2 linked regions of the Homo sapiens genome follow. The protein of the gene in region 1 purifies or fractionates together with the protein of each later gene. This does not show direct contact. Each region holds a gene or a part of one and is shown on either strand. Other genes may lie near its edges.

Evidence for each region. Proteins that work in one complex are often made in the same cells at the same time.
Region 2: the proteins of TMEM175 (region 1) and SAR1B purify together in Homo sapiens (affinity purification with mass spectrometry; one large-scale study listed by BioGRID and IntAct). This does not show direct contact.

Annotation. Positions count from the first base shown.
Region 1 is NC_000004.12:952,960-956,459, forward strand, and holds part of TMEM175 (endosomal/lysosomal proton channel TMEM175), read left to right. Parts: intron 1-230; coding exon 231-395; intron 396-2,445; coding exon 2,446-2,524; intron 2,525-2,795; coding exon 2,796-2,931; intron 2,932-3,357; coding exon of another isoform or gene 3,358-3,439; exon of another isoform or gene 3,440-3,500. UniProt on the Homo sapiens protein: Proton-activated proton channel that catalyzes proton efflux from endosomes and lysosomes to maintain a steady-state pH.
Region 2 is NC_000005.10:134,612,329-134,615,828, reverse strand, and holds part of SAR1B (small COPII coat GTPase SAR1B), read left to right. Parts: intron 1-2,796; exon of another isoform or gene 2,797-2,815; intron 2,816-3,072; coding exon 3,073-3,138; intron 3,139-3,500. UniProt on the Homo sapiens protein: Small GTPase that cycles between an active GTP-bound and an inactive GDP-bound state and mainly functions in vesicle-mediated endoplasmic reticulum (ER) to Golgi transport.

The DNA of each region.
Region 1 (3,500 bases):
TCTCTCCACCTCAGCCCCTGTGCCCAAAGTGTCCCAGGTACAAGCCCACCTCTACTCGCCAGGTCCTCCCCCACCCCAAGACCCCTGTGCGCGCGTGCCATGCAGCCCGGGGCCAGGTCCTCCCCACCTCGAGACCCTTGCGTGCGTGTGCCATGCAGCCCGGGGGTTGACTGCTGTGGGGGCCCCCTCTGCTCTTGGGGCCTGTGTCCTACAGCTTGCTTTTCCCGCAGGCACTGATTGTGGGGTACGCATTCCACTTCCCGCACCTGCTGAGCCCGCAGATCCAGCGCTCTGCCCACAGGGCTCTGTACCGACGACACGTCCTGGGCATCGTCCTCCAAGGCCCGGCCCTGTGCTTTGCAGCGGCCATCTTCTCTCTCTTCTTTGTCCCCTTGGTGAGTGCTGGGACAGCCCGTGGGGCCCAGGCAGGAACGGGGGCCACCATAGGAGCAATGTCCCCGCTGAGCAACAAACACGGGGGTGGGGGCAGAGCGCAGACAGGCAGGGGTTCCACCCAGGGTCTTGTGTGTGAGGCCCAGGGCTGCAGTGAGTGGCACCAGGGAGGGAGGCCTGCTCCACCTGAGGCCCCGAGACCCAGCCTGTCGAGGACAGAGACGGACGCTCATCGAAGGAAGGGGCAGCTGAGTGTCCTTCTCAGAGAAGCTTCACGATGACGATGACCAGAAACAGCGACACCCGGAATCCGGGGGTGCATGCGTTTTCTTGTTTTGTTTTTTGTTCATTGAGGCAAGATCTCGCTGTGTCACCCAGGCCGGAGGGCAGTGGTGTGATCTTGGCTCACCACAGCCTCGACCTCCCGGGCTCAAGTGATTCTCTCACCTCAGCCTCCCAAGTAGCTGGGACTACAGGTGTGCACCACCACACCTGGGTAGTTTTGGTATTTTTTGTGGAGACAGAGTCTTGCTATATTGCCCAGGTTAGTCTGGAATGCCTGGACTAAAGTGATCCTCCCGCCTTAGCCTCCCAAAGTGCTGGATTACAGTGTGAGCCACCACGCCAGCCTTTATTTTCTTTTTTTCTTTTTTTTTTCTTGAGACGGAGTTTTGCTGCCAGGCTGGAGTGCACTGGCGCAATCTCGGCTCATTGCAACCTCTGCCTCCCAGGTTCAAGCAATTCTCCTGCCTCAGCCTCCTGAGTAGCCGGGATTACAGGTGCCTGCCACCACCCTCAGCTAAGTTTTGTATTTTTAGTAGACACGGGGTTTCACCATGTTGGCCAGGCTGGTCTCGAACTCCTGACCTTGTGATCCACCCACCTCAGCCTCCCAAAGTGCTGGGATTGCAGGCATGAGCCACTGCGTCCAGCCTATTTTCTTTTGGATAAGGAATCTATACAAAACTGTGTCAGGACAGTAAACATCAAACAGTGTTTGGAGGAGGAGCCCCTGGGGATAAGACCAGTATCTGCTCATGGGGACATCAGCTGTTGGTGCTTGGAGAATGTGAGCCACTAGGGAGAGGGAGAAGGCAACAAAAGCACTGCTGGAGACGTGTAGGTGTCGTGAGTGGCGCCGCTGTGAGCACTGCTGGAGACGTGTAGCTGCCGTGAGTGGCGCCGGTGTGAGCATTGTTGCGTGTGGAGCCACTGTGGGCATTGCTGGAGTGATGCCTCTCTGAGCATTGCTGGACACGTGTCTCTTCAGATCTGTCTTCTCAGGCTGTTGGTGTGTGTGCCCACAGTGAGTTTCTGGGTCATTTGGTGATTCTGTTTAATTTTTTAAGTTTAATTTTTTGAGGAACCACCAAACTTCCACAGCAGCTGCAGCATTTTACATTCCCACCAGCAGCACATGGTGGTTCCAGTTTGTCCACATCCTCATCAACACCTGCTGTTTTTCAGTTCTCTCCATCCTAGTGGATATGAAGAATCTCGTTGTGGTTTTGATCTGCGAGAGGTCGACCATTTGCATGTTTTGTTTGGAGCAATGTCTGTTCTCATCCTTTGCCCATTTTTAATTGGGTCGTCCTTTTATTTTTGAGTTGTAAGAATTTCAGATAGGGAGATAGACGATAAATTTTAAGACACGGTCTTGCTCTGTCACCCAGGCTGGAGTGCAGTGAGCTGGGTCACCTCTCACTGCAACTCCTGTCTCCCAGGTTCAACAGGCACACACAGTCACACCTGACTAATTTTTTATTTTTCGTAGAGATACAGTCTTACTATGTTGCCCAGGCTGGTCTCGAACTCTTGGGCCCAAGCGATCCACCTGCCTCAGCCCCACAAAGTGCTGGGATTACAGGCATGAGCCACTGTGCTGGCTTAAGAATCCTTTACACTTTTTGGGTACTAGGCCCCATCAGATACATGATCTGCAAAGACCCTCCCTTCTGCCGCAGCCCCTGCTTTGGCACACAGCTTTGTGTGGGTAAGGCCTGGCCTCGGACCCCTGTGGAGGGCACTGACCTGCGGTTTGTCTCCCTGCAGTCTTACCTGCTGATGGTGACTGTCATCCTCCTCCCCTATGTCAGCAAGGTCACCGGCTGGTGCAGAGACAGGCTCCTGGGTAGGTGATGACTGGGTGGGCTGGCCTGAGAGGCCTGTAGTCCGCCCACCTCCGTGCGGCTGCTCCGCACTGAGGGCTGTCCGTGGGCCGAGGCCCGTGTGCGTGGTGGTGGCTGGGGCTCCCCCACTCCGCCCCTCGGGCGTCCCTGTCCTGTCTCCTCTCCTGGCCTGCACATTCCAGGCCTCTTCATGGATGAGGGCGGTGACAGCCACGCGGGCTCTACCTCCACATGGGGGGTTTGGCCAGCTCCACCCTCCTGGCGTGTCCCCAGGCCACAGGGAGCCCTCGGCTCACCCAGTGGAAGTCTTCTCGTTTGACCTCCACGAGCCACTCAGCAAGGAGCGCGTGGAAGCCTTCAGCGACGGAGTCTACGCCATCGTGGCCACGCTTCTCATCCTGGACATCTGGTGAGGACCCCGCGTCACCTGCCCCAGCTATCAGGTGGCCAATGTGTCTTGAGTCCCTGGCGTCTCATCCTGGAAACCCCAGAAAGGCACAGGGGTCTTGGCTCCACCCTCCTCTGGATGCCTAGAGTTTTGTGTGAGGTCAGGGCAGCCCCCACTTCAGGGAGGACAACCTTCCCGGCGGCCCCTCCCTTCCCAGCGGCCCCTCCCTTCCCAGCGGCTCCCACCCCAAGCACAGCCGAGGATGGGGTGCCAGGGTGAGGTCAGCACCAGCAGCCAACTGCTCTCCTCACTCCTCTCAGAGGGGCTCAGCAGCCATGGGTATCCCCCTGCCCCAGGCCTCACCCCTGCCCCAACACCAGCCCCTCCTAGTCCCTAGTCCCTCCCATTCCCTCCGGCTCCCTCCCAGTGCCCCCCATCGCTTCGCAGCCCCTCCTGCTCCCTTTGGCTGGCTGTTGCTTCCTTCCAGCGTCTGCTCCTCCGCGGCCTCATCTGCCTCTTCGTCTGTTAGAGCGCGCGTCTCGTCTCAGTCGTCACGTTTTTGGTTTTTGTGGGGTTTTTTTTTTTTTTTT
Region 2 (3,500 bases), on another chromosome or scaffold:
TTGTTATTTTTTGAGACGGAGTCTTGCTCTGTCGCCCAGGCTAGAGTGCAGTGGTGCAATCTCGGCTCACTGCAAGCTCCGCCTCCCGCGTTCATGCCATTCTCCTGCCTCAGCCTCCTGAGTAGCTGGGACTACAGGCGCCTGCCACCACGCCCAGCTAATTTTTTGTATTTTTTTAGTAGAGACGGGGTTTCACCGTGTTAGCCAGGATGGTCTCGATCTCCTGACCTCGTGACCCACCCGCCTCAGCCTCCCAAAGTGCTGGGATTACAGGCGTGAGCCACCGCCCCCGGCCCAGAATTTCTTCTTATTTTCAGACAGAATCTCTCTCTGTTGCCCAGGCTGGAGTGCAATGGCGCAATCTCGGCTCACTGCAACCTCCGCCTCCTGGGTTCAAGTGATTCTCCTGCCTCAGCCTCCTGAGTAGCTGGGATTACAGGCACCTGCCACCATGCCTGGGTAATTTTTTTTTTTTTTTTTTGAGATGGAGTCTCGCTCTGTTCCCCAGGCTGGAGTGCAGTGGGGCAATCTCGGCTCATTGCAACCTCTGCCGCCAGGGTTCAAGCGATTCTCCTGCCTCAGCCTCCCTGGTAGCTGGGATTTCAGGCACCTGCCGCTGCACCCAGCTAATTTTTTGTATTTTTAGTAGAGACGGGGTTTCACCTCGTTAGCCAGGATGGTCTCGATCTCCTGACCTCGTGATCTGCCCATCTCGGCCTCCCAAAGTGCTGGGATTACAGGCGTGAGCCACCGCGCCCGGCCCCCAGAATTTCTTAAGAAGATAAAAACTCTGGGCTAAAGTAGCTACACTAAAACTTATGTTGTCATTATGGGGCACTTGTGCTTTTGGCCATAAGTGAGTACTGGTTCTGGAATTACCCTCCCACTGTACACAACTAGAAAACCGGACAAAAAAAGATGCTACAACTGTTTTCAGACATTGGGCAACAGCTACCACAGGACTGTGATTCCTGAGAGAAAGGAAACAACTCTATTTTGGTTTTATGCCAAGAGGTAATTTTCAGACCATGGTGCAAAGAGAGGACACCCAAACATAGTCCAATAGTCTTGCTGAGTTGAGGAGATGTAGACCAGAATTTGGAAAGGCCAACAGGACTAGAATTTTTTTGCTAGGACAGAGAGGAGGGAGTACCGGAGAGGAGGGACCTCTGGAGAGAAAGGACTCTAGAAATTTACATAGCTGAATACCAATCTGTGCATGCAATGGGTAAAGCTCCAAAAGGCTAGTCAAAGAACAATTGTAAGAATGCTGTTAGCCAAATAATTACTAGAGCTCTCATGGGGCCAGGAATTGTTGTTTAATCCCATTTAGCCTTCTAACAAATGTTAAAAACTGATCTGTAAGCAAGTGAACTGTCAGAACAAAATTCAACCTTCTTCAAAAGACTACAACAAAATCCAGCACTCAATATGAAATTACTAGACATGCAAAGAAACAGGAAAGTGATTCAGTCAGTAGAAACAGACACAAGTGTGACAAAGATGATGGAATTAGCAGATTAAGACATAAGACAATCGTTATGAATGTGCTCAGGGATTTAAAGGAAAACACAAACATGAGGAAAGAAATGGAAGATATAACACAGAATCAAATGAAACTTCTAGAAATGAAAAATACAGTATTTGAAATGAAAATTTCTTTTTTTTCTTTCTTTCTTTTTTTTAATAGAGACAGGGTCTCCCTGGGTTGCCCAGGCTGGTCTCGAACTCCTGGGCTCAAGTGATTCTCCCACCTTGGCCTCCCAAAGTCTGGGCTTACAGGTGTGAGCTACCATGCCCAGCCTGAAATGGAAATTTCACTGGATAGGATTAATAGTAAATTAGATAGTGCCAGTACTGCAGAAAGAAAGACCACTAAACTTAACTCAATGCAACAGAAACTCCAGAATGAAGCACAGAGAGAAAAGTGACTGAAAGCAAAATAAACAGAGCCTCAATGACTGGTGAGACAACATCAGGCAGTCTAACAAACCTGCAACTGAAGTCCCAGAAGTGGAAGGGAGGAGAAAGAAAGATAGTTATGGAAATAATGGCCACAATTTTTTATGGTAATTGTTTTTGTAATTAAAGACTGTCTTATGTCAGCCATAAGAGAAAATTATTTCACCTGTATCATTTAAGATGAATTATATGAACAATTATTAGATTGGAGCAGTTATTTGAATTCATAGCAAATAATTGTCTGAAGAGATTAACATTTTCAGCAGGAAGAATAGAGAAGGAAAAATAAATGTTGGATTTGTGGTGAGTAGAATACTAGAACTGAATATTACAATTATTTGTTATATTGTCAGTATGAATTGGTGTATATCTAATTACAAAAAAGTATTATTGTACCAGTTTGTAAATGTTTGATTTGACCTTATTTGCAATAAAAGTAAATCAAACATTAAGTAGTAAATATAAGCTATTGTTAGAAATGCTTGTTCCCTGGTGCTGTAAAGGATAGCACTTGAACATAAATTTAATTTCCTCAGCAAGGCCATTTTTACTTTCTGCAGAAAGGGTACACTTGCCAGCAGTTTTGCCACAAGAGTACACCGAACAAAGGAGACAGGGTCATTTATAATCTGATGCGTCCACCCTACTGCTGTGTCCGGTTTCCATTGGCTGGAATGGGACCTCACATTCTGTATTTGTCCTGATTGGCTAGCAACTTAGAACTTTTTAAAAGAGGCAAAGGCAGAGGAGAACAAAGGAAGGAGGAAGTAACTTGTGGAATGCTGAGAAAGGTAAAAACACCTTCAAATAAGGAAGAGGAACAGGCTATGACCTAATGCTTGCTTGGACCAGTGTAAGTATGCCAGGGCAAATATTTAGGCTAAATTGTGGGAGCTAAGAACATAAAGTACATTGATTTCTTTATTACGGCTGGCAGATATTTAAGAATGTTAGCACGGGTCTTTGAATCAATTTTGCTTCTAAGAGAAGTTACTATTTATTCTTAATTAGATGGGGAGGAAAGTCTTTGAAAAGGAACCTCTACTTTACTTTTTACACGATTAATGGGTTTCTAATTTTCATGTAAAAATATTTTAAAATCTTATTTAGCTTCCGAAGAACTGACCATTGCTGGCATGACGTTTACAACTTTTGATCTGGGTGGACATGTTCAAGGTAAGATTCTTTTTTTTTTTTTTTTTTTTTTTTTTTTTTTTTTTTTTTTAGACAGGCTCACTCTGTCTCCCAGGCTGGAGTGCAGTGGTGCAATCTCAGCTCACTGCAACCTCTGCCTCCTGGGTTCAAGCAATCCTCATGCCTCAGCCTCCCCAATAGCTGGGATTACAGGCATGTGCCACCGCGCCCAGCTGATTTTTGTATTCTTAGTAGAGATGGGATTTCGCCACGTTCAAGGTAAGATTCTCTTACTCTTACAGTCACTTTGTTTTATTTTAACTTAACAAAAATGTGGCCATTAGTTCTAGTGCATGAAATCTCATTCTAGTCACGCAAGGCCAGAGTAGATTTAAAATTTAGGG